Linked DNA regions of Homo sapiens. The protein of the gene in region 1 interacts with the protein of each later gene in a pairwise test. Each region holds a gene or a part of one and is shown in the gene's direction. Other genes may lie near its edges. The genes, in order: FAM161A, MCM6, MTCL2 and ZNF250.

Region 1 (5,745 bases):
AATGATATCAAGGGGTCTTCTCATTAACTTCTCAAAAAGTATAAACAGAGTTACCATGGCAGTGAATCGCCATTGCTTTTTTTTTTTAGTACATTTTTTGCTGCAGTCTATTTTGCTGGAACTATTGCTGCTAATTAACAGCTGGTTTTTAATAAATTTGCTTGCAGCTATTTGCTTTGCCCATTTATAGGAGTTAATTGTGGTCTCGCTGCTGCTGAGTGATTCCCTAACACAATATGCCTGTGATTCTTTACAGAATAAACTATGTTGTCCTGTTTCTTGGAAATCACAGGATTAATTAACTGAGAAGATGTTAAATTGAATTTTAAACCAAAGTCAGATGAAGGCTTACTGGCACAAATTTTGACTAATGTCTTTTTAATGTCTTATATATTTAATTTGCTGAAGTCAGAATATACTGTTGGTAATGCATTCAGAGCTAGGTTTGGGGTTTCTTTATTCTTCTCTGCAGTCTTTAGGGTATAGTTCTTATTTCTCATTTTGCCCTTCCTTTCAGCTCCCCAAGACTTGTCTTTTGATATTCACAGACTCTGGATGGGTTTTTACTTACTTTTCTAAAAAATATTATTGTTATTCACAGTGAGTGCGTTTTAGCAGCAGTGTTTCTTTTTCAGTTTTCCAGAGTATCAGGAAATGCCCTGGTGATAGTTTTATCTATTGTAATCAGTCCTTGCTATTTCAGGTTCTCCTGTGTAACACTAGACTCCATGGCCCCTCATTATACTAGATTTGGCAAATATCTGACAACTACGTTGCTCAAGTCAGGCTTTAGGTCACCTTCAAACTCTTGACGACCACTACCACTTAGAGAAAGTAGCATGATGTAATATAAAAGACCTAGGAAATGGTCAAGAGACTTGGTTCTACCACTCACTAGCCTTGTGACCTTAGTCAATTTCACCTTTGAGGCGGGGGCCGGGGGAGACTTGGTTTCTTTATTAAATATGGGGGTTAGACTGGGTACTCCTCCACACCCTTCCCAGTATGAATGCCATTGGTACATTGGAACTGGGCCATTCCTAGTATTAGGAATGCTTGCTTTACTTGGAGGTCTTAGCTTTAGTTGGAGGTCCAGAGGGCAATTCTTGGCCCTCTAACAGTTCAGATCCACTCATGGGAGCTAAAATGGGCTAAAGTGGAGGCACTAGTGTGAACCCAGTCACTATGTGGCTCCATAAAGCCTGCCATCTCTGGAGCTGTGATGAGAGGGTCATCACAATTCCAACAGATCTTAAAGCCGGGAAGTGACATTCTACAGATTTGAACCCAGTTCTAAATTCATATTCTTTTTGTTATATCCCTTGCTTCCTCCACAGAGTAAAGATTACAACACTGGTGCTTTTATCATCTTTAATGGATTGGGGATATGGCTTATAAAGAGTAAAAATTACAGTAGATACATAAAATAAAAGAAATTGGCTGGGTGCCATGGCTCATGCCTGTAATCCCAGCACTTTGGGAGGCCAAGGCCGGTGGATCACTTAAACCCAGGAATTCAAGGCCATCCTGGACAACATAGTGACGCCCCGTCCTACAAAAAATACAAAAATTAGCTGGGCATGGTGGCACGCGCCTATGGTCCCAGCTACTCCAGAGGCTGAGGTGGGAGGATCGCTTGAGCCCAGCAGGTTGAGGCTGCAGTGAGTTGTGTTTGCACCACTGCACTCCAGCCTGGGTGACAGAGCAAGACCCTTTTTCAAAAAAAAAAGGAAAAAGAATCCTCTGACAACAATTATTGCATGAAATCTTTTTTTTTTTTTCAGATATCTTTATACAGTCATAAAAGTATATAAAACCTAGGTACAATATAAAAAATAATTATAGATCAATCTAATGTGGCCACCACCCATGTTAACAAATAGACCATTGCCAGCACCCCAAAAACCCTATGTGCCATTGCAGATCACAGCCCTCTACCTCTCCCCAAGAGGTAACCACCATTCTAACTTTCAGGATAAGTACTTCCTTGTTTTTCTTTGCAATTTTACAGTGTGTGTACCTATCCTCAAACAATATAGTTGTTTTGCCCATTTCTGAACTTTATATAGATCATACAATATGTACTTGTCAGTGCTTTGCTTCTTTTGCTCAGTATTATATTTGTGAGATCTATCCATGTTGTGGCATGTAACTGTAGTTCATTCATTTTCCTTGCTTTGTTTCACTCCATTATAGGAATAGACCACAATTTATTTATCCATTCTGCTACTAATAGATATTTGGGTGATTTCCCATTTGGGGTTATTGAAGGACAGTACTATCCTGAACATTCTTGAACATGTCCTCCCTTGGGACTCATATGTGGGAGCTTCTCTGGTTATATTCCTAGGAGTGTAATTGTTGGTCATAGGGTATGCAGATTTTCAAACAACTGTGACTGCTGAACTTAATTATCACCAGTACTTTTAATCCATATTTTTTTTTTTTTTTTTTTTGAGACAGAGTCTTGTTCTGTCACCCAGGCTGGAGTACAGTGGCGCGATCTCGGCTCACTGCAAGCTCCGCCTCCCAGGTTCACGCCATTCTCCTGCCTCAGCCTCCCGAGTAGCTGGGACTACAGGCGGCCACCACCACGCCCGGCTAATTTTTTGTATTTTTAGTAGAGACGGGGTTTCACCGTGTTAGCCAGGATGGTCTTGATCTCCTGACCTCGTGATCCACCCGTCTCGGCCTCCCAAAGCACTGGGATTACAGGCGTGAGCCACCGCGCCTGGCCTAATCTATACATTTTTGATGAAAATTTAAAGTCTTCTGTTCTCGTCTAAAAAGGTTTGTCTTTCCTATAGAAAAATGCAAGAATGGCAGCAGAAAAGCATTATTCTAATACCCTAAAAGCACTAGGAATATCTGATGAGTTTGTTTCAAAGAAAGGCCAAAGTGGAAAAGTACTTGAGTACTTCAACAATCAAGAGACGAAAAGTGTCACTGAAGACAAAGAAAGGTAACATATATAAGATGTCTGAATGGCTTACCTTTGAAAAAATTATTACCTGCAGAAAAGCACAATTTTATACTATGTATATTTTTTGTTCTATATTGTTTTAAAAAGATCTTTTACCCAATAGTAAAAGACATATGAACTGTTGTAAAACACACTGATATTTTAACATGTTTGACACATTAACGTTCACATGAAGTATTTTATTTTTAAAGCAGAATAACAGATTTCTTAAAGACATAAGTAACAAAAATAATAGCATGCTTTCAAATGAAGTTTAAAGAAACAATCACTCAAATTTTGAAATAAATTAGTTTTCAGGAATATTAAATTTCTCAATGGGCACTTTTATAGCGTTTTCTTCTTTTTTTTGAGTTGTCTTGGTAACAAATTGGAATTCATACACTTGAGGAAGACTGGCTACACGGTGGCATACTTGCAGAGGGTTTGTTTACCTTTAAACCAACTCATTTTTCCTTTGAAAGATTGATAAATTTCTTCCCCTAGCTTTAATGAAGAAGAAAAAATAGAAGAAAGAGAGAATGGGGAAGAAAATTATTTTATTGATACCAACAGCCAGGATTCTTACAAGGAAAAAGATGAAGCCAATGAGGAAAGTGAAGAAGAGAAATCTGTTGAAGAATCACACTGAATCATCAAGGTCTCCTCTCTATGCCCTTGCTGTTGTTTGCAGCGTCAGGGTGTCAGCAGCCGCATTTGTGTTTAGAACATCTGTGGGGACGCTTCTGATATGTGCAGGGCTGTTGATCAAAGTCATCTGTAGCCTGAAAAGCCTGAATCCAGCTGATTGGTCATTTGATCAGTTAGAGTAAGGCTTTGCCTATTCAGTTTTAAAAATCATTGTGTATTATCTGTTTGCAACTATGATTTTGTATTTTTAAAAAGTGAGAACCACAGCTGTCACAAACTGATTAGTTATAAAAATATACATTATTTCATTAATTTTACTGGAAAAAATGGCTTAGTATTGAAAGGAGAGAGAAGTATTGGTCTTTGGTGGTTTACTTTTTAAAAATTTTGGAAAGTGTGAATCAATAACTATTTTTAATTATACTATTTGCCCATTCTTTTTCTCTGCAGTGCATTTCACAGAATAAATCCTCTAACTTGTTTTGCTGCTCTGAGCCATTTTTAAAAGTATAGAAAAAACGCCGGGTATGGTGGCTCATGCCTGTAATCCCAGCATTTTGGGAGGCCGAGACGGGTGGATCACGAGGTCAGGAGATCGAGACCATCCTGGCTAACACGATGAAACCCCGTCTCTACTAAAAATACAAAAAATTAGCCAGGCGTGGTGGTGGGCGCCTGTAGTCCCAGCTACTTGGGAGGCAGAGGCAGGAGAATGGCATGAACCCAGGAGGCAGAGCTTGCAGTGAGCCGAGATCGCGCCACTGCACTCCAGCTTGGGCAACAGAGCGAGACTCCGTCTCCAAAAAAAAAAAAAAAGTATAGAAAAAAATGGATACTTGCAAATTTACATTTATTTTTGCACTGAGAGTTTACTGTTAAATTGTCTACACCATCATCCCTTTTTCTTTTTATCCTTAGTTCTAGTCCAAATTATTTTTGATTTGTAAATTATTAGGAAAGTTTTTATACTAGTTTTTTTAACCCTATGTATTATTACAGATGGAAGTAATTATGGCATGTGTGAGTTATAATCTAAATTAGGGGCAAGTATCCCTTTTTTTATATGATGAAATTGTGCATAATAACTTGGCTAGGGCAAGTCTCCAAAGTAATTCAGATTTAACTCTTCACTGCTAGACCCAGTTGTGTTCAACTTTTTACATATTATTGCCAACACACTTTATCTCTCTGTGTACAGTGTTAATCTGATTTTATAAATCTATATTTTTTTCTTTAAGCAAATTTTTGTTTTAAAATTTGAAGCCAATCATAAAGATAATATAGCATAAGACATTTTCTTTTCTAAAAACAATCAGCATCATTTTAAAAGGATGAACTAATACAGGTGTATGTAATAGCAGTGTTTCCAAACTGGCAATTTATGCTTTAAATTTAAAAATAAGGTCATTTTTCTCCATCAGGGGCAAATGTTTACTTGTAATTTTCTTCCTACAGTTCGTGTTAAATTACTTTTTACTATTATTATATTGTAAACTCCTTGGGATTTGGCACCATTTAAAAATTCATCTTTGTATTCCCTTAATATTTGGAACAGTATTGTACATATGGTAGGTACTTAATAAAGGTTTGAATGAGTGTGTAGATGAATATGGTTTTTATATACTTACAGCTACTTCAGAATGAGTACACATGGGATTAAAAACATTTCCCTCCTAGCTCATTGGGAGCCTGTGAAACACAATCTACAAATTGTAATAGTACTTAAAACATTACTTGCTTTCAAGGATTCACTCCACAGCCTGTCCCTTCTCAATTTCATGAGGAGAGTGTGGGCTTTGGTCATGAAACACTTGGCTTCAGGACCAATCTTGTTTTCTTACCTTTAAAAAAAAAATGGGAATATTACCTATCTTGAGTGGCTGTAGGAAGGACTGGATGAAATCATATATGGAAAGGTCTTTGCAAACTGTGATATTCAAATGATGGTGTCAGAAGACAGAATATTCCTGAGGAAACTGTTAACTTAAAATACTTGTACTTAAATGAGATACACTGTGATTTAAATATTATTTGGTTAGAAATAACTTTTGAAGCACTTTGTTAGACATGATCTGGTTAACACAGAACCAAAGTTAAAAAAAGAGGGAGAGAGACACTGACAGTTTCAAATCATT
Region 2 (6,350 bases), about 74 Mb from region 1:
GCTTTTGTCCTCATTCGCGTCTCACACAAAATGATTTGGGAACTCAAGGTGTTCTTGATTCATGTTATATGTCATTATTCTCTTTCTCCCTCATACAAGTAAGTTTTAAACACAGCAGAAGTTGAGTTTTATGATAGTTATGTTATCCAGGTCCAAACATTTCCTATGTGTTGAGGGTTCTTACCAGGACTTTCTAAAAGTCTGGTAGACCTTGGACTTGTTAAAAGCAGCAGGCAGTTCACTTAGTAAGATGAACCTTGCTAAAATAAACAGGTAATTTTTTATTTTGAGTGAATACTCATGAATTTTACTTCTTAGTAAACTCCAGTTCCATAAAGCCTTCCCCTTTCTACAGAGGAAAAGTTGTTATATTTCAGAATTTTTGCTTGCTGTTGCTTCATTCCTAATTTATGCTTTTAGTTTCTGTTGGCAAGCATTCTCAGAGGTGGTGAAGCATAAGAAGATGAAGAAAAGACCTTCATACTTTGAAATCTTAATAGCTTTAAGAAACATATTTCTTATAATCTATTTTATTAGGTTTCTCTCCTTATGGATAAAATAAGGCATGCTTTAATACAAGTGATATGACTTGTTATTTCAGGCTTATGCTAGAACATTGCGGACCTTACGTCACCAGATGTACTTTCGGACGGCTTGACATTTATCTAATCTGTACATTATCTCGTTGTATATGTGGCAGAGATTTACCCAAGGACTGACAGTACGAGTTGCTAGGATAATTTGAATGTGTTTTTTTGTTGCAGAAGAGGACGAGTCAGCATTAAAGAGGAGCGAGCTTGTTAACTGGTACTTGAAGGAAATCGAATCAGAGATAGACTCTGAAGAAGAACTTATAAATAAAAAAAGAATCATAGAGAAAGTTATTCATCGACTCACACACTATGTAGGTGCAGAAGTGCGCGTGCTCTGGTATCAGGGAGGGAGGGAGTTCATGCCCTGTATCTGCAGGTTCACTAGTGAAATTTTTTTTGACCTTTGTTTGTTTTGAATCATTGGAGTGTAGTCAGAAGTATGAGTTGTAAAATAAGAGAGAATGAACAGCAGGTAAATGACTTATTTCCTCTGCTGAAACAAGCAGAATTTAGGTTAAATCTCAGAAGGTGGGATTGAAGTCTTACTAGTTAGGTGTTTTAAGCTTCTGTTTCCCATCCTCATATTTGCCCTTGGTCGTACTGCTGTCACCTACTTTCTATGTTTCATTTTCCTCACATTCTTAGTTCCCACCTTACCCAACCCAATAGTCAATCTTCCATCTTACTTGCTTGGCGAAACCCCAAACTTGGTTAAATATAACTTTTTTTTTTTTTTGTATCCTTATCTAAGCAGCTGAAAGTATCTGGAGAAAAGCATATAATTATGAGCCCAGTCTTATTTAAATCGATGACCAGAAATCTCAAGTGGACAGTTCTTACTGTCTCATCAACCTCATGACAGCACTGCCCAGTGCAATTCCTTTTCCCGGGTCAGTTCTTTGCCTCACTCTCTCACAGGCCCATCACATACCTTCTCTCCACTCCTGTCAGCTGGCCATTCTCAGTACTCAGCCTGTCCACAGCTTTGTCACAGTTGATCACTCCTACAAATAGTGTCTTCCTCACTTGGTTCTGAGTCACTGTATCCTCCTGGGGCTTCTTTCTCACTGGTTATTCCCTCTTAGTCTCTTTCCCTGAATGGTTTTGTTTTTTTTTTTTTTTTTTGAGACAGAGTTTCGCTCTTGTTGCCCATGCTGGAGTGCAGTGGCATAGCTCACTGCAGCTTCCACCTCCTGGGTTCAAGCGATTCTCCTGTCTCAGCCTCCCAAGTAGGATTACAGGCGCCGGCCACCACGCCCGGCTAATTTTTTAATTTTTTTTTTTTAGTAGAGATGGGGTTTTGCCATGTTGGCCAGGCTGATCTAGAACTCCTAACCTCAGGCGATACGCTCACTTTGGCCTCCCAAACTGCTGGGATTACAGGCGTGAGCCACCGTGCCTGGCCTGAATCTTTCTCTTCTTACTTTACTCTCAGATAGTTTACATTCATTACCTAAGTGATCTCATTTGGTTTTATGAATTTATCCATCTACTGATGACTTCCACATTTATGTCACCAGCTCTCACCACTCCTGTAAACTCCAGATGTATAGAGCTGGTTGCCTACTGATGAGCGTTTAACAGGCATCTCGTGCTTAATGTGTTCAAAAACAGAGTTGTTCTTCCCTGTTTGCAGTTGAGTTGTTCTTACTCAATTGCTATAGGCCAAATGCCTTGGAATTGTCTTTGACTCCTTGATTCCACTCTCCCCTCACAGCTCCTCTTCAGCAGCAAATCCTCTGACCCCCAGCTTCAGTGTGTGTATATTTTCTTTTCTCTTTTTACCGCCTTCACCAGCCCACCCAAGCCACCAGGCATGGACTGTTGCAGAAGCCTCATAAAATTGTCCTTTTTTTGTATTGGCTTCTTGCTCAGCAGCCAGATAAGTCTTTTTAAAATATAAATCAGATTATTTTACTACCCTCCCTTCCAGTGCTTCTCTCACATTAGAAGGAAATTCAGCCTCCTTGTCATGGCCTGCAGAACTATTATACAGTGTAACCCCTGTCCCCTCATTCACCTAATTTCACAGCAGTCTTCCCCATACCCATTTCACCCCAGTGACACTGGCCTTGATCCCTAGGCACACCAAATATGAGGGCCTTTGCACTCACCCTTTGTCCATTTCCCTAGATATCCTCCTCCTCTCCAATGTCTGCTCAAATGTTACCTCTTCAAAGAAACCTTTCTTGCTAGCCTGCCAAAATAGTAGCCTTCTGCTCTTGCTGTCACCCTGCCTTGTATTTCTTCGTAATGTTTAACATGGCCCAGCAGTATATTCTTTATTTAAGTGGTTAGTTTGTCTCTCTTATGGAATATAAGCTCTGTGAGGGTAGAGACTTTGCCCCGGAGCTACAGTGGTACCTGGCACATAGCAGGATCAAATATATGTTGAATGGTTAAATTTTCCTATTATGTGGCAGAGATTTAACTGTCGTGCCAATTCACAGGGCTCACTATATAAATATTACAGAGGTCATGTATTGGGGTTGTGTCTTCTCAAAAACCGTTTTCCTGTGAAGGTAGATCAGTCTGTGATTATTGAGGGGTAGGGAGGTGTAAGAACAGCTACTCAGATCAGGGTCCAGAGTTGCTTTTCTAGTGGTGGGACATGTCTGTGTGCTCCTTGGGATCAGTGTAAAGTAAAACGACCCAGGCAAGGAATCTGCTTCAGGACTTTGGAACACACTGTGAAGCTAACTGATCTAAACTTGAATTACCTATTTATTTATTTATTTATTTATTTATCTTTTGAGAGAGTCTTGCTCTGTTGCCCAGACTGGAGTGCAGTAGCATGATCTCAGCTCGCCGCAACTTCCGCCTTCTGGGTTTAAATGATTCTCTTATCTCAGCCTCCAGAGTAGCTGGGATTACAGGTGCCCGCCACCACTCCCAGCTAATTTTTGTATTTTTAGTAGAGATGGTGTTTCACCATGTTGGCCAGGCTGGTCTCAAACTCCTGACCTCAGGTGATCCACCCACCTCAGCCTCCCAAAGTGCTGGGATTACAGGCATGAGCTACTGCGCTCAGCCTGGATTACCTTTTAAAATTTGGCTTACCACCTGAACTAATTTGCTACAGAAAACTAGAGAGCTTATACTGTGCTGATGAGATATGATGCTTCCTATGAAGGTATGTTAACACATAGAGTGAGTGCTTGAAAGTGTCCAATCTAACTTCAGGGGTAGATTTGAAAGGGCAATTTTTTAAAAAGTGTCCAGTCCCCCTTAGTGGCTTCAGTGTTTATACTGTGGAGCCTTGCCAGACTTCTTAGGATCAAATCACAGTTTCCTGAGTTCCTTTCTATGGGCTTGGCTAGGAGCTCTTCTCATTTGTGGACAGTTTTGACTAACCTGTAATTATATCGTGGGCTTAAAATCTGTCATCAAGATTTTAAGCCAGATGGCATGTTCTACCTTTTTTTTTATTAGCTCAGAGTGAAAAATTTTTCAGATGAATTTTCATAGATTCTTCTCCTAACTCTATGAAATGGTGGTATATGAAAAAGTTCAGTGGTCATAATTAAAAATTGCTGAATGATATTAAGTATGAAACAGACTTCCAATTAATTAGAAGATTTTGCAGAGTTGTTTAACCTTAAAATTCAAGCATTACTTCCTTTTTTGAAGTTGTATTTACAAGCATTTGATGTAATATATTTAAGTATTTCTTAATTTTCCACAAGGGGTTTATGGTATGAAAAGGTCAGCATCCTACTAGGAACAGGGTTTAGCAGAGCACTGATAGTGATTTTTAAAGTGTGGTCCTTTTCCTAGGAGTTTCTAGTTGGGAAATGAAAGAAAATGTTGATAGCAAACACTCGGAAGAAGGGTCAAGTCTTGTATATCTGGACATTGGTATAATACTGCTTGAAACCTGAGGACAAATATTTGTGTTTCACAGGATCATGTTCTAATTGAGCTCACCCAGGCTGGATTGAAAGGCTCCACAGAGGGAAGTGAGAGCTATGAAGAAGATCCCTACTTGGTAGTTAACCCTAACTACTTGCTCGAAGATTGAGATAGTGAAAGTAACTGACCAGAGCTGAGGAACTGTGGCACAGCACCTCGTGGCCTGGAGCCTGGCTGGAGCTCTGCTAGGGACAGAAGTGTTTCTGGAAGTGATGCTTCCAGGATTTGTTTTCAGAAACAAGAATTGAGTTGATGGTCCTATGTGTCACATTCATCACAGGTTTCATACCAACACAGGCTTCAGCACTTCCTTTGGTGTGTTTCCTGTCCCAGTGAAGTTGGAACCAAATAATGTGTAGTCTCTATAACCAATACCTTTGTTTTCATGTGTAAGAAAAGGCCCATTACTTTTAAGGTATGTGCTGTCCTATTGAGCAAATAACTTTTTTTCAATTGCCAGCTACTGCTTTTATTCATCAAAATAAAATAACTTGTTCTGAAGTTGTCTATTGGATTTCTTTCTACTGTACCCTGATTATTACTTCCATCTACTTCTGAATGTGAGACTTTCCCTTTTTGCTTAACCTGGAGTGAAGAGGTAGAACTGTGGTATTATGGATGAGGTTTCTATGAGAAGGAGTCATTAGAGAACTCATATGAAAGCTAGAGGCCTTAGAGATGACTTTCCAAGGTTAATTCCAGTTGTTTTTTTTTTTTTTTAAGTTTATAAAAGTTTATTATACTTTTTTAAAATTACTCTTTAGTAATTTATTTTACTTCTGTGTCCTAAGGGTAATTTCTCAGGATTGTTTTCAAATTGCTTTTTTAGGGGAAATAGGTCATTTGCTATATTACAAGCAATCCCCAAATTTTATGGTCTTCCAGGAAAAGTTATTACCGTTTATGATACTAACAGTTCCTGAGACTTAGCTATGATCAGTATGTTCATGAGGTGGAGCAGTTCCTGTGTTGCAGCTTTTAACAACAGATGGCATTCATTAAATCACAAAGTATGTTAAAGGTCACAAAAGCAAAATAACTGTCTGAGGCTAAGGCCCACGTGGGACAGTCTAATACCCATGAGTACTCAACTTGCCTTGATGTCTGAGCTTTCCAGTGCAATGTGAATTTGAGCAGCCAGAAATCTATTAGTAGAAAGCAAGACAGATTAATATAGGTTAAAACAATGATTTAAATATGTTTCTCCCAATAATTATCTCTTTCCCTGGAATCAACTTGTATGAAACCTTGTCAAAATGTACTCCACAAGTATGTACAATTAAGTATTTTAAAAATAAATGGCAAACATTAAAAACAAGAGTGAATACTCAAGTAGATTTGTCATGGGATTTTTATAAGAAGACTGGTATCAGGTAATGTATCTTTAAAGACTAGGCTGCTCTGCTGACGTAGTAACCATTTTTTATTCCTTTACTTTCCTAATAGCCTTGCTTTCACTTAAGAAAAAAAAAGGCTAGGCACGGTGGCTCACGCCTGTAATCCCAGCACTTTGGGAGGCCAAGGTGAGTAGATCACCTGAGGTCAGGAGTTCGAGACAAGCCTGGCCAACGTGGAGAAAACCTGTCTCTACTAAAAGTACAAAAATTAGCCAGGCATGGTGGTGGGCACCTGTAATCCCAGCTACTCAGGAGGTTGAGGCAGGAGAATTGCTTGAACCCAAGAGGTGGAAGTTGCAGTGAGCTGAGATCATGCCACTGCCCTCCAGCTTGGGCGGCAACAACAACAACAAAAAAAGATTCCCAGGCTTCACCCTCTACAGTCTATGGAAAGTCATGGGAGTCTATTAAAAAAAAACAGACACTATAAACCAAATTAAAAGATGGG
Region 3 (7,032 bases), on another chromosome or scaffold:
AGAAGGCTGCCGACCCCTGGGTCCTGAAGCACTCGGAGCTGGAGAAGCAGGACAACAGCTGGAAGGAGGTGAGTGGGGCGGCTGCTGCCATGCTATCTTGGCTCCTGGCTGCACCATAAAGGTCCCTGCTTGTGGGGGACATGAGAGGAAGTTGCTAACCCTGTCTCATAGGTCACACCCTTGCACCTTGGGCTCCTCAGCCCTGGAGTCTGTATCTCATGGTTCCTGCCTCAAAAAAATAAAAAAAAAACCCAACCACCCAGGGACTGGGCTAAGTGAGGGGGTAGGGTTGAGGAGGAAGAAGACAAGCCCACCACCAGCTGAGCAGTGGACCACTGGATGCTTTGTTGCAGTCACCACATTTGGATTAAATTTTAAGTGGTCCCTTTCCTTGGGTGGGTCACTCTTGGAGCTCTGATTGGCCCAGCCTGGATCACATATGGTGGGGGAGTTGGATGCAGGGCAGCCAGAAACTGACCATGCTAGATCATTGATGACATCATTCCTGCTCTCCGGATGAGGAGATTCAAGCACTGAGGTCGGGGCTGGTCTCTTGTTCCATGCCCTTAGTGCTCTGGTGGCCAGAACTGACCCTTCCTGTCTCTCTTCCTTGACAGACACGCAGTGAGAAGATCCACGACAAGGAGGCTGTTTCCGAAGTTGAGCTTGGAGGAAATGGTTTAAAGAGGTGCTTGCATGCTGGTCCCCTGCTCTGCCTCTCTGACCGGCCCCACAGCCTCGCCCCTCTCCACCTCCTGCTGCGCCCTGCACCCACTCTACCTGCTTTCACCGCAGCCCTGCCCCGCCCCTTTGCCCTCTTCCTGCCGCCACCCCACCGCATCCAAGTTGGGAGAGCATCGGGATATGGTTTCTCTGGAACCCGAGCCACTCAGGAGCTGGAAGGCTTGGGGCAGTGGGAATTCCAGGCTGCTGCATGTTGTTTGAGTCCGGGAATGGAACACAGGTGGAAACAAAACATTTTGCTCCTCTTGGGATTCTTTTCTCCTGCCTCTGGAGTTAGGAGAGTCAAGATTGACCTCTATTCCTGGGATTATTGAGCAGCATCCTTTGGGCCCAGCCCTGTGCTATGGCCAAGGAGACCCCCACCCCAAGACCATAAGGACCACGTCTCCACTGTTAGGAAACCCATGAAAGGAGTCAGGGAAACAGAACCCCCAGCCGCTATCAGACCAGCCCAGAAGCAAGGCAGGCGGGACAGGCTGTGGAGCCAGAGGGCCAGGTTTGAATGCCAGCCCTGCCAGTTCTAGCTCTATGACCTTGACCTTGAGCAGTACTTCCCATCTCTGTCTAGTGGGGATGATAGGAGCTGCCTCTTGAAGTTAATCAGAGTGGTCTGACACGTGCATTTCCATATGCCTGGTGTGTTCAGTGATTCAGGCAATAGGTGTGCCAGGAGCTTCATGGCGTCTTAGTTTGGGTTCCCCCATAAGCAAACCCTGAGACAAAGATTTAAGTGCAAATGGTTTATTTGGGACAGAATTTCAGGAAACACTTGGAAGTGAGACAGGGAAGGGAAAGCAGCCGATAAAAGGAGCTTCAACCAGGTTATTCCACGGGCAACTGGAGTTCAGGCTGTCGGAGGAACTCAGGGAGCCAGAGGAGAACATGCAGCTTAGAGTCATCCCACCACAAGGAGGCTGGGGCACTTGTTCACCATATCCCACCTATTGTTTGTTGAGGGCTGTGTTTAGGGGTGTGAACTCATTAACTCTGTGCTATCTCTAGCTTCGGTTTGGGCGTGTGTTTTGTTTTTTTTGTTTTTGTTTTTTTTTTGAGGCAGAGTTTTGCTCTGTCTCCCAGGGTGGAGTGCAATGGCACAATCTTAGTTTACTGCAACCTCCACCTCCCAGGTTCAAGCAATTCTCCTGCCTCAGCCTCCTGAGTAGCTGGGGTTACAGGCTAACGCCACCACGCTTGGCTAATTTTTGTATTTTTACTAAGAGATAGGGTTTTACCATCTTGGTCAGGCTAGTCTCAAACTCCTGACCTCAGGTGATCTGCCTGCCTCAGCATCCCAAAGTGCTGGGTCTAGCTTCTTCTATGTGTAGGACAGCCAAGTATGATCCCACAGGCAGAAAAAAAAACCATCAGATAGAGAATGGTGGAGTATGCAGTTCAGAGTATGCAGTTTTAGGTGTATAGGTGAAAGTGCAAAGAGAGGCCAGGTGCAGTGGCTCATGCCTCTAATCCCAGCATTTTGAGAGGCAGAGGCAGGAAGATCTCTTGAGGCCAGAAGTTTGAGACCAGCCTGGGCAACATAGGGAGATCCCCATCTCTACAAAAAATTTTTTAAAAATTAGCCAGGTGTTAGGCTGGGCACAGTGGCTCACATCTGTAATCCCAGCACTTTGGGAGGCTGAGGCGGGTGGATCACCTGAGGTCAGGAGTTCCAGACCAGCCTGGCCAACATGGTGAAACCCCGTCTCTACTAAAAATACAAAAATTAGCTGGGCGTGGTGGCGCACGCCTGTAATTTCATCTGCTCCGGATGCTGAGACAGGAGAATCTCTTGAACCTGGAGGGTGGAAGTTGTAGTGAGCCGAGATCATGCCACTGCACTCCAGCCTGGGTGACAGAACAAGACTCTGTCTCAAGAAAAAAAAAAGAAAAAAAAAAGCCAGGTTTGGTGGTGCACACCTGTAGTCCCAGCTACTCTGGAGGCTGAAATGGGAGGATCACTTGAGCCCAGGAGTTTGAGGCTGCAGTGAGCTATTATTGCACTACTGCATTCCAGCCTGGGTGACATATCAAGACCTGTTTGGGAGAAAAAAAAAAAAAAGAAAATGCAGACAGAATGTGGGACTGGGCACCAACAACATCTCTACAAGAGGTGAACAAGACGGTCCTGGTCTTTGCCCTCACGCAGCACACGGACCAGGGTGGTAGACCAGAGTGTGCCCTCAGTGTTATTTCCACTAATAACGACGTTTCCTCCTCTGTCCTTCGCAGAACCAAATCTGTTTCTTCCATGTCTGAGTTTGAAAGTTTGCTCGACTGTTCCCCTTACCTTGCTGGCGGAGATGCCCGGGGCAAGAAGCTGCCTAACAACCCTGCCTTTGGCTTTGTGAGCTCCGAGCCAGGGGATCCAGAGAAAGACACCAAGGAGAAGCCTGGGCTCTCGTCGAGGGACTGCAACCACCTGGGTGCCCTGGCCTGCCAGGACCCCCCAGGGAGGCAGATGCAGCGCAGCTACACGGCTCCTGACAAGACGGGCATCCGAGTCTACTATAGTCCCCCGGTGGCCCGGCGCCTCGGAGTCCCTGTGGTTCATGACAAAGAGGGCAAGATCATTATCGAGCCCGGCTTCCTCTTCACCACAGCCAAGCCCAAAGAGTCGGCCGAGGCTGATGGGCTGGCTGAGAGCTCCTATGGTCGGTGGCTCTGCAACTTCTCACGGCAGCGCCTGGACGGAGGCTCAGCGGGCAGCCCCTCGGCGGCCGGGCCTGGCTTCCCAGCGGCCCTGCATGACTTTGAGATGTCAGGCAACATGAGTGATGACATGAAGGAGATCACCAACTGTGTGCGCCAGGCCATGCGCTCCGGCTCACTGGAGAGGAAAGTGAAGAGCACATCCAGCCAGACGGTGGGCCTGGCCAGTGTGGGCACACAGACCATCCGCACGGTCAGCGTGGGCCTGCAGACCGACCCACCCCGCAGCAGCCTCCATGGCAAGGCCTGGTCACCCCGCAGCTCTTCGCTCGTGTCTGTGCGCAGCAAGCAGATCTCCTCCTCCCTGGACAAGGTCCATTCGCGCATCGAGCGGCCCTGCTGCTCCCCCAAGTATGGCTCACCAAAGCTCCAGAGGCGGTCTGTGTCCAAGCTGGACAGCAGCAAGGACCGCAGCCTGTGGAACCTGCACCAGGGCAAGCAGAACGGCTCGGCCTGGGCCCGCTCCACCACCACGCGGGACAGCCCTGTATTGAGAAACATCAACGATGGACTCTCCAGCCTCTTCAGTGTGGTGGAGCACTCAGGGAGCACGGAGTCTGTCTGGAAACTAGGCATGTCTGAGACGCGGGCCAAGCCCGAGCCTCCCAAGTACGGCATTGTGCAGGAATTCTTCCGTAATGTGTGTGGCCGGGCACCGAGCCCCACCTCATCAGCAGGAGAGGAGGGCACCAAGAAGCCAGAGCCCCTCTCCCCAGCCAGCTACCATCAGCCAGAGGGTGTGGCCAGGATCCTGAACAAGAAGGCAGCCAAGTTGGGCAGCAGTGAGGAGGTCAGACTCACCATGCTCCCCCAGGTGGGGAAGGATGGTGTCCTCCGGGACGGAGATGGAGCCGTGGTCCTTCCCAATGAGGTAGGTGGGTGGGATCTGTCCTTTCTCTTAGTAGGTGGAGTTAGTATATAAGGTCCAAGCTCTTTTGGTTTTTAAGTTCAGAGATATGGGCCGAGGTGGGTGGATCGCCTGAGATCAGGAGTTCAAGACCAGTCTGGCCAACATGGTGAAACCCCATCTCTACTAAAAATACAAAAATTGGCCAGGCGTGGTGGCATGCACCTGTTGTCCCAGCTGCTCTGGAGGCTGAGGTAGGAGAATCACTTGAACCCAGTAGGCGGAAGTTGCAGTGAGCTGAAATTGTGCTATTGCACTCCAGCCTGGGTGACAGACTAAGACTCCGTCTCACCAAAAAAAAAAAATTATCTATCTGTCTGTCTGTCTGTCTGTCTGTCTGTCTGTCTGTCTGTCTATCTATCTATCTATCTATCTATATATCTATATATATAAAATAAAAATTCAGGGATATGGCCATGTGTTCCAGGAAGTTCTTATGCTGGTCTAGGATAGAGTTGGAAGGTCCCAGACCTGGAACAACACAGACCTGATGGTCACATGGTCTGAATTCCAAGAGACTAGTGAGCATGGCTTAACTAGCAGCTTTTGCTCCACCCACCAGAGACTGCCAGCATCCCCTCCAGGGAAGGGGCCTTACTGCTCTCCTGCCACCCAGTGGTGTGCTAGAGCCAGCTTGTTTGGCTTGCAGGAGCCAATTGTCAGCATCTCTGTGGGTTTTTTTTTTTTTATTGTTTTTGTTTTTGTTTTGAGAGAAGTCTCGTTCTTGTCCCCCAGGCTTGAGTGCAATGACTCAATCTCGGCTCACTGTAACCTCCGCCTCCTGGGTTCAAACAATTCTGTCTCTGCCTCCCAAGTAGCTGGGATTAAGGCACCTGCCACCATGCCCGGCTAATTTTTGTATTTTTTAGTAGAGACGGGGTTTCACCATGTTGGCCAGGCTGGTCTCGAACTCCCGACCTCAAGTGATCCGCCCACCTTGGCCTCCCAAAGTGTTAGGATTACAGGCGTGAGCCACCGCGCCTGGCCACATCTCTGTGTTTAACATCACCTTGGTACCTTGAGATTGGCCACAGTGGGAGGATTTACAGCATAAAAATTGGTAAACACTACAAATCGGGGCTCCTCCTATCACTCCTGGAAAACTAATTGTTAAACATTAGCGGGCATACCACTTCTCCACCCCATCAAGACTTCACACCTAAGTGCTCACATTTCCTCTGAGAATCTTTCACACCCCACTCCTGCTATCAGTTTCTTATAAGTTAATTAGTAAACCTTATTTGAATGTTAGTGAGCATTATTTGAATGTGTTAGAATGTGCATAAGTTAACTTTGCAGAAAGGGAAGGAAATGTATTTGAAGGATGGCATGTTTTATAAAACCCAAGAGTAGGAACCTGACAACCTCAGCAGCTTCTCCCTGTCTTCCTCTCCTCTCTTTAAGCTTCACCCTCTCTGATATCATATTCCTCCTTTTTCTCTGTTTCTCTCTCTGTTGCATTTGCACAAGGACTGGGTGGGCTGTCCCAGCTCTGACTTTACAACATCTTCCAGTTCAAGCCCCTAGGAGAGACTGACACAAATCCCTGTCTCCCAATTCCACATTTCTGAAAGAAGGAAACTCTGATTGGTGCAGCTAGAGGCGAGTGTACCCCTTGGTCCAGTCTATGGCTGGGAGTGGTACCATGTGGTCTGCTGTGGGGCACAGAGACATGAGAAGGGCTGTGTGTGGAATGGGCTGTGATAGACTCAAACATTCTACTTTTCTATTATTGTACGTTTAGGTGGTTTCTAGTTTGTCCCTACTGCAAATAATGCTGTGGTGAACATCTTGGTGCAAAATCATTTTTTTACATTTCAGACTATTTCCTTAGGTATAAGTTGCAGAAATGAGATTAAAGGATAATAGAATATAAATGTGGCCGGGCGCGGTGGCTCATGCCTGTAATCCCAGCACTTTGGGAGGCCGAGGCGGGTGGATCACAAGGTCAGGAGTTTGAGATCAGCCTGGCCAATATGGTGAAACCCTGTCTGTACTAAAAATACAAAAATTAGCCGGGCATAGTGGTGGTCACCTGTAGTCCTAGCTACTCAGGAGGCTGAGGCAGGAGAATCGCGTGAACCCAGGAGGCGGAGGCTGCAGTGAGCTGAGATGGTACCACTGCACTCCAGCCTGGGTGACAGAGTGAGACTCCATCTCCACACAAAAAAAAAAATATAAATGTTTTAAAGTTATTTGATAAATACTGCCAAATTGTTTTTCAAAAGTGTGCCATATCTACAGCTTCCAGCAGTGTGTGGCGAGTGCGTTACTTTTCTATACTCTCACTCAGCTGGCTGACATTTAAAAACATCTTTTAAATATTTATTCCTTTTTTGGCCAGGTGCAATGGCTCATGTCTCTAATCCCAGCACTTTGGGAGACTGAGGTGGGCAGATCACTTGAGCTAGGAGTTCAAGACCAGTCTGAGCAACATGGTGAGAGCTCATCTCTACATTAAAAAAAAAAAAAAAGAGGCCAGGCATGGTGGCTTACGCCTGTAATCCTAGCACTTTGGGAGGCCGAGGCAGGTGGATTGCCTGAGCTCAGGAATTTAAGACCAGCCTGGGCAACACAGTGAAACCCCATCTCTACTAAAAAATACAAAAAATTAGCCAGGCGTGGCAGCATGCGCCTATAGTCCCAGCTACTCGGGAGGCTGAGGCAGGAGAATT
Region 4 (7,032 bases), on another chromosome or scaffold:
AATCTTGTTTCTTGTTGCTATTTGTTGAATAGATTTTTTTCCATTCATATTTTCTGATTAGGTGTTACTGGTATATAAGAAAGCTATCAGTTTGGTTGTTTTTTTGTTTTGTTTTGTTTTGTTTTGTTTTGTTTGTTTGTTTATTTGCTTTTTTTCTTTTGAGATGGAGTCTCACTCTGTTGCCCAGGCTGGAGTGCAATGGCGCGATCTTGGCTCACTGCAAACTCCACCTCCCAGGTTCAAGCAATTCTCATGCCTCAGCCTTGGGAGGAGCTGGAATTACAGGCACGTGCCACCACACCCAGCTAATTTTTGTATTTTTAGAAGAGACGGGGTTTCACCATGTCACCCAGGCTGGTCTTGAACTCCTGACTGTTGGGATCAGGCCCCCCCAAAATCTGGCTATAAACTGGCCCCAAAACCGGCCATAAACAAAATCTCTGTAGCACCGTGAAATGTTCATGATGGCCATAATGCCCACGCTGGAAGGTTGTGGTTGTGGGTTTACCGGAATGAGGGCAAGGAACACCTGGCCGGCCCAGGGTGGAAAACCCCTTAAAGGCATTCTTAAGCCACAAACAATAGCATGAGCGATCTGTGCCTTAAGGACATGCTCCTGCTACAGTTAACTAGCCCAACCTATTCCTTTAATTCGGCCCATCCCTTCGTTTCCCATAAGGGATACTTTTAGTTAAATTAATATCTATAGAAACAATGCTAATGACTGGCTTGCTGTTAATAAATACGTGGGTAAATCTCTGTTCAGGGCTCTCAGCTCTGAAGGCTGTGAGACCCCTGATTTCCCACTTCACACCTCTATATTTCTGTGTGTGTGTCTTTAATTCCTCTAGCGCCGCTGGGTTAGGGTCTCCCCGACCGAGCTGGTCTCAGCACCTGACCTCAGGTGATCCACCCACCTTGGCCTCCCAAAGTGCTGGGATTACAGGCATGAGCCACTGTGCCCGACCAGAAAGCTATCAATTTGGATACATATTTCTGATCATTAATTCTGGAAAGGTTGCAGGTTAGGGTTAGTTTAGGTTAGTTAGGGTTAGTTTAGATTAGGTCAAGTTTAGCAGTGTTTCGCCTTGTGCTCACAAGTGGCTCAGAAGCTGCCTCTCTTGAAAGTGCTTTCACCCTAGCGGGTAGGGGCTCCTTGGTGATGAAGAGGGAGCAGTGCTTGTTAGCAGAAAGTCCAGGGAGTGAGGATGATGAGGAGCAGGAGAAGGCAGTGGCCCTGGAGGAGATCCTGGAAGCTCATCCCAGATCAGGAGACTCCAAATGTGCCTGTCCCAGTGTGTGACCATGTGCAGGGTCCTCTGGAATGACAGGCACACTGCTTTGTCACATCAAGACAGTCAGGAATTCCAAAAAGAGTGATAGGAATGTCTCACTGCGATGTGGCTTTTGATCACCTAAAGAAAACTGGAAAGCCAGTTGCTGCTAATAACGTTGATCTATTGTTTTTGTTTTGGATTATTCCTTAGGGAAATTTTCAAGATTGAAATTCCTGAGTTTGAAAAATTAGCTCCTTATGCTGCCACCTTTGTAACCAGTGGGTGGGAGGGATCATTGCTCAGCCAGTGCCCTGAGTGGGTGTTCTTTATATTGCCCATTTGTTAGCTGTTGGCATGGCCTCAAGAGGGGGCTCCTCAAACTCCACTTCCAGTATTCTGTGGCGGTGATCTCCAGCCTGTCCCAGCCCCTGGCCCTGGAGCCTGGCATCTATAGAGGACTCGTCATTAGCCTGTCTTAATTTTTTAAAACTGTCCACATCATCCTCCTTCCCTGCCTGAACTGTGTTCTCATGGAGCAAAGCTTGGAGTTGGACGTCAGAATCCCGTGAAGTGTGGATGGAGTGTGTTGTTAAAAGCCAGTTTCTGGCACCCCCGATAGCTCTTACATTTTCCTGTCTTGAGTATGCAAGGTTTAGGTTGAGGTCCATGGTGTTTGCCTGGCCTGGTATCCTGTTACAGGCTCGTTCCAGGAAACTGAAACCTTTATCTGCCATAGTGTAAGTAAGGAAAAAATTTAAACTAGTTAATACCACTTTTAAAATGTATTTTGTTCATATTTTTTTTTAATTTTTATTTATTTATTTATTTATTTTGAGACAGGGATTCATTCTGTTGCCCAGGGTGGAGTGTAGTGGTGCAGTTACAGCTTACTGCAGCCTTGACCTCCTGGGCTCAAGCAATCTTCCCATCTCAGCCTCCAGAGTACCTAGGTCTACAAACCAGCTAATTTTTTAAATTTTTTTATAGAGACGGGGTCTCACTATATTGTCCAGGGTGTTCTTGAACTCCTGAACTCAAGCAATTCTCCCACCTTGGCCTCCCAAAGTACTGGGATTATAGGTGTGAGTCACCATGCCCAGCCATTTTTGTTCATTTATTACCAGAATACAATCAGACTTTGTGATAGGATTTTTTTTTTTTTTTTTTTTTTGAGACAGAGTCTTGCTCTGTTATGCAGGCTGGAGTGCAGTGGCACAATCTTGGCTCACTGCAACCTCTGTCTCCCAGGTTCAAGCTATTTTCTTGCCTCAGCCTCCTGAGTAGCTGGGATTACAGGTGCCTGCCACCATGCCTGACTAACTTTTTGTATTTTTAGTAGAGACGGGGTTTCACTATGTTGGCCAGGCTGGTCTCGAACTCCTGACCTTTTGATCCGCCCGCCTCGGCCTCCCAAAGTGCTGGGATTACAGGTATGAGCCACTGCGCCTGGCCGATTTTTTTTTTAATTAGCAATATGTGATGGTCATCTTTCAATAGAGACCTGATACTGCATTTTGTGTGATGCTTTTCTAAGACTCACCCCAGGTGGCAGTCTTTCCCTTTCACTTCTCCTTGCCACACACTTGTTGACAGCCTGGTATTGTCCTTTGGAGTATTTCCTCTGTGTGTTAATCAAATAGATAATAACACCTTATCCAGCAGCATCCTCCTCTGAGCCAAGCCTGTTCTTAGCGCTCTCCTCTCACCAACCACATGATCTCCAGGCCTTCAGAGGAGTGTGTCATCTGGATTTATAGGTGGGGCCTCAATGCAGCTGGCCCAAGTGAGGCAGGTGAACCAGTCCCAGGTCCTTGTGACACACATACCCTTCATGGGCTCGGGGTCATAGTTTACAAAATGAGATTTTCCCCTGCATGCTGGCCCCATGCTGCATTTTCACTCACCCATCTGGTGACCTGACACAACATACATCTTTCTCTTTAGCAGGTGTGTAACTTGTATGTGGAAGGACCAACGTAGCATTTGCCTCAGCAACATCCTTGAATCTGCACCCTCACCCACATCCATTCTTATCAGGTACCCACTATCCAAGGGCCAGTCTGATTTGCCTAAATACTGCTAGGTCGCCTTCTTAAGAGTATGAGAAACTCCACTTTCCCATGCCTGCCAGTTTAAAGTGTTGACTCCGTACTTGGCTATTACAGATGGCATAAAGTGTGAGCTCATTCCTCTTCATTCATTTATTCAACAAACAGGCCGGGTGTGGTGTTCTCAGGCCTGTAATCTTGACACTTTCGGAGGCCAAGGAGGGAGGATCCCTTGAGCCTAGGAGTTCAAGACCAGTCTGGGCAACACAGCAAGACCTCGTCTCTACCAAAAAAAAAAAATTAAGAAATTATCCAGGCATGGTGGTGCAACCTGTATTCCTAGCTACTTGGGATGCTGAAGTGGGAGGATCACCTGAGCCCAGGAGTTGGAGGCTGCATTGAGCTGTGATTGAGCCACTGTACTCCAGCCTGGACTACAAAGTGAGACCCCGTCTCTAAGAAATTAATTAAAAGTTTAAAAAAGTACATTGCCTGGCAATTTGTAATCATTAGCCTAGAAGTAATTAAAAAAAAAAAAAAAAGGTCGACCACTGATTACTCTGTTGGGCCTGCTTCTTGGTCTGCTGGTGCAGGAGAAAGGGATAGGATGAGAGCTGGGTGAGGCCAGGGCTGCTGCGGTGGGTGGGGCAGAGGTCTCTAAGAGTTGGATGGGGAGCACAGGCCAAGGGATAAAGGGCTGCAGGGCTCTGAGGAAAATCACAAAGTTTGGGGCATGCCCATAGGAGCCAGTGGGGTCCTGGGAGGACCTTGGAGCAGAGGACAGTCACTGTGTTCTCACAGGAAGGTAGATGGAGGGGCTGGGCAGACAGACGGTGCTGGGAGTCTGTCTGCCCAGATGGGAGCTGCCGAACATCTAGGGGTGGTTGTCATGGGGCAGGGAGGGCGAGATGGGCAACATGGTCAGGTTCTGGATGTGCTTGGAAGGTGAATAGAAGTGTGGGAGTGAAGAAGGAAGGAGGCTGATGCACAGGCTCACAGACCAAGCTGGGGGTAGAAATGATGGTAGAGGGGGTGCTTGGTTTGGGATGTTAAATGTCTGAGATGCTATGAGACACCCATATTGAAAGGTTGAGTCAGAGGGAAGGGGGATCACGAGCTCAAGTGTACCAAAAGAGCTACTGGGCTCAACTGACTTTTCAGACTCACAGGACAACCATGCCTAGCAGCAGCTTCTCGGAAAAGCTGGCCAGCATCATCCAGCAGCCATCCAGGGAGTACTGAGGTGCATAAACACAAGATGCAGGTAGGAGGAGGAGTTAGCCTAGTCGAAAGCCTCGTGGTCATACAAGCCAGCACCTCCTGTGTCAAGAGAACTGGCTGCAAGACCTGCTAGGGAGGCCCTGAATGTACTTCCTGTGGTTGTTCATCATTGAGTCACAGCCCAGGTGTGATTGGTCCGTAGAGAGAATGACCATCCACCTCTGCCAGGTTTCCAGGGGACCAGAGCTGTGCATTCACCCAAGGTCAAATTCGCATGCAGGGCTAGGCGCAGTGACTCAAGCCTGTAATTCCAGCACTCTAGGAGGCCAAGAGGGGCATATCACTTGAGCTCAGGGGTTCGAGACCAGCCTGGGCAACATGGTGAAACCCCGTACCTACAAAAAGTACAAAAATTAGCCGGGCATGGAGGCAGGTGTCTGTAGTCCCAGCTACTCAGGAGGCTAAGGTAGGAGGATCGCTTGAGCCTGGGAGACGGAGGTTGCAGTGAGCCTAGATCATGCCACTGCACTCCAGCCTGGGTGACAGAGCGAGATTCTGTTTCAAAATAAAGAAATGGCAGATCTGTGCGCTGGTGGGTGACCCATGGAAAGGGTCAGGGTGTGGCAGGAGAGAAGGCACTTCTGCCCTTGAGGGTAGGCAGATGTCAGACAGGGGGACCAGGAGCACATGAGGCCACTGTTAATGCTCACACTTGGTCTTCATCTTAATCCAAAATTGGTTATTGTTGGGCTGGGCGTGGTGGCTCATGCCTGTAATCCCAGCACTTTGGGAGGCCAAGGCGGGTGGATCACCTGAGGTCGGGAGTTCGAGACCAGCCTGACCAAGATGGTGAAAACCCATCTCTACTAAAAATATTTAAAAAATTAGCCGAGCGTGCTGGTGGGTGCTTGTAATCCCAGCTACTCGGGAGGCTGAGGCAGGAGAATTGCTTGAACCTGGGAGGCAGGGGTTGCGGTGAGCCAAGATCACCCCATTGCATCCCAGCCTGGGTGACAGAGCAAGACTTCGTCTCAAAAAAAAAAAAAAATTGGTGGCTGGACACGGTGGCTCACGCCTGTAATCCCAGCACTTTGGGAGGCCAAGGCGGGCGGATCACCTGAGGTCGGGAGTTCAAGACCAGCCTGACCAACATGGAGAAACCCTGTCCCTACTAAAAATACAAAAAAAATTAGCTGGGCATGGTGGCGCATGCCTGTAATCCCAGCTACTTGGGAGGCTGAGACAGGAGAATCACTTGAACCCAGGAGGTGGAGGTTGCGGTGAGCCGAGATCTCGCCGTTGCATTCCAGCCTGGGCAACAAGAGTGAAACTCTGTCTCAAAAAAAAAAACAAACAAAAAAATTGGTTATTGATGTATCCCATCTGGGTACACACAAGTTACTAAAGGAACCACTGATTTCCTGCTGAACTAAAATGTAACATTTTTGTTATCTTCCAATTTCCCACATACCTGTCTGGCTTCATCTGTTCCTCTGTCAACAACTTGTTGGTTTAATTGCAGCGGCTTCCTACCCACCCTTGGCTCTGATTCCTGGCAAGGCAGTCCCCACCCTCTGTTCTTTCCAGTTAAATTCTTGGCTATTCTCTAGCATCCATTCTTCTTATGAATTCTCAAGTAGTTGTAGTCATTCCTTTAAAAGACTTCTGTTGGAATTCTAATTAGAGTTGCATTGCGCTAACACAGAAGTGTGCTCACACACACATTTGGAGGGAATGGGCATTTTTGGAGAACAGCAGCACGGGGGAGGGTTGAAAGTCAGTCTCTCTCCAACTGTGTTTCCCTGTCCTGTTCTTCAGAGGCAGGCAGTTAGTTTATTGTGTATCTTCCTGAAAGTTGTCTGTGCAAATATATACATGTATCTGATGTGTGTTTTTTTTGTTTTGTTTTGAGACAGAGTCTCAGCTGAGATGATCTCAGCTCACTGCAACCTCCACATCCTGGGTTCAAGTGATTCTCCTGCCTTAGCCTCCTGAGTAGTTGGGATTACAGGCACCCGCCACCACACCCAGCTGATTTTTGTTTTTGTTTTTGTTTTGAGATGGAGTTTTGCTCTTGGTTGCCCAGGCTGGAGTGCAATGGCATGATCTCGGCTCATCGCATCCTCCACCTCCTGAGTTCAAGCAATTCTCTTGCCTCAGCCTCCTGAGTAGCTGGGACTACAGGCGTGCACCACCACACCCGGCTAATTTTGTGTTTTTAGTAGAGACGGGGTTTCCCCATGTTGGTCATGGCTGGTCTCGAACTCCCAACCTCGGGTGATCCGCCTGCCTCGGCCTCCCAAAGTGCTGGGATTACAGGCATAAGCCACTGCACCCGGCCTGATTTTTGTATTTTTAGTAGAGACGGGGTTTCACCATGTTGGCCAGGCTGGTCTCAAACTCCTGACCTCCGGTGATGTGCCTGCCTCACCCTCCCAAAGTGCTGAGATTACAGGTATGAGCCACCGCGCCCACCTATATCTGAT

What was found.
Region 2: the proteins of FAM161A (region 1) and MCM6 interact in binary tests that used the Homo sapiens proteins (3 or more experiments, as listed by UniProt).
Region 3: the proteins of FAM161A (region 1) and MTCL2 interact in binary tests that used the Homo sapiens proteins (3 or more experiments, as listed by UniProt).
Region 4: the proteins of FAM161A (region 1) and ZNF250 interact in binary tests that used the Homo sapiens proteins (3 or more experiments, as listed by UniProt).

The regions. Positions count from the first base shown.
Region 1 is NC_000002.12:61,824,321-61,830,065, reverse strand, and holds the end of FAM161A (protein FAM161A), read left to right. Parts: intron 1-2,807; coding exon 2,808-2,962; intron 2,963-3,466; coding exon 3,467-3,611; 3' UTR 3,612-5,218; downstream 5,219-5,745. UniProt on the Homo sapiens protein: Involved in ciliogenesis.
Region 2 is NC_000002.12:135,839,099-135,845,448, reverse strand, and holds the end of MCM6 (DNA replication licensing factor MCM6), read left to right. Parts: intron 1-764; coding exon 765-904; intron 905-4,497; coding exon 4,498-4,614; 3' UTR 4,615-5,823; downstream 5,824-6,350. UniProt on the Homo sapiens protein: Acts as a component of the MCM2-7 complex (MCM complex) which is the replicative helicase essential for 'once per cell cycle' DNA replication initiation and elongation in eukaryotic cells.
Region 3 is NC_000020.11:36,790,538-36,797,569, reverse strand, and holds part of MTCL2 (microtubule cross-linking factor 2), read left to right. Parts: coding exon 1-68; intron 69-617; coding exon 618-688; intron 689-2,970; coding exon 2,971-4,321; intron 4,322-7,032. UniProt on the Homo sapiens protein: Microtubule-associated factor that enables integration of the centrosomal and Golgi-associated microtubules on the Golgi membrane, supporting directional migration. Preferentially acts on the perinuclear microtubules accumulated around the Golgi.
Region 4 is NC_000008.11:144,891,425-144,898,456, reverse strand, and holds part of ZNF250 (zinc finger protein 250), read left to right. Parts: intron 1-3,224; exon of another isoform or gene 3,225-3,314; intron 3,315-7,032. UniProt on the Homo sapiens protein: May be involved in transcriptional regulation.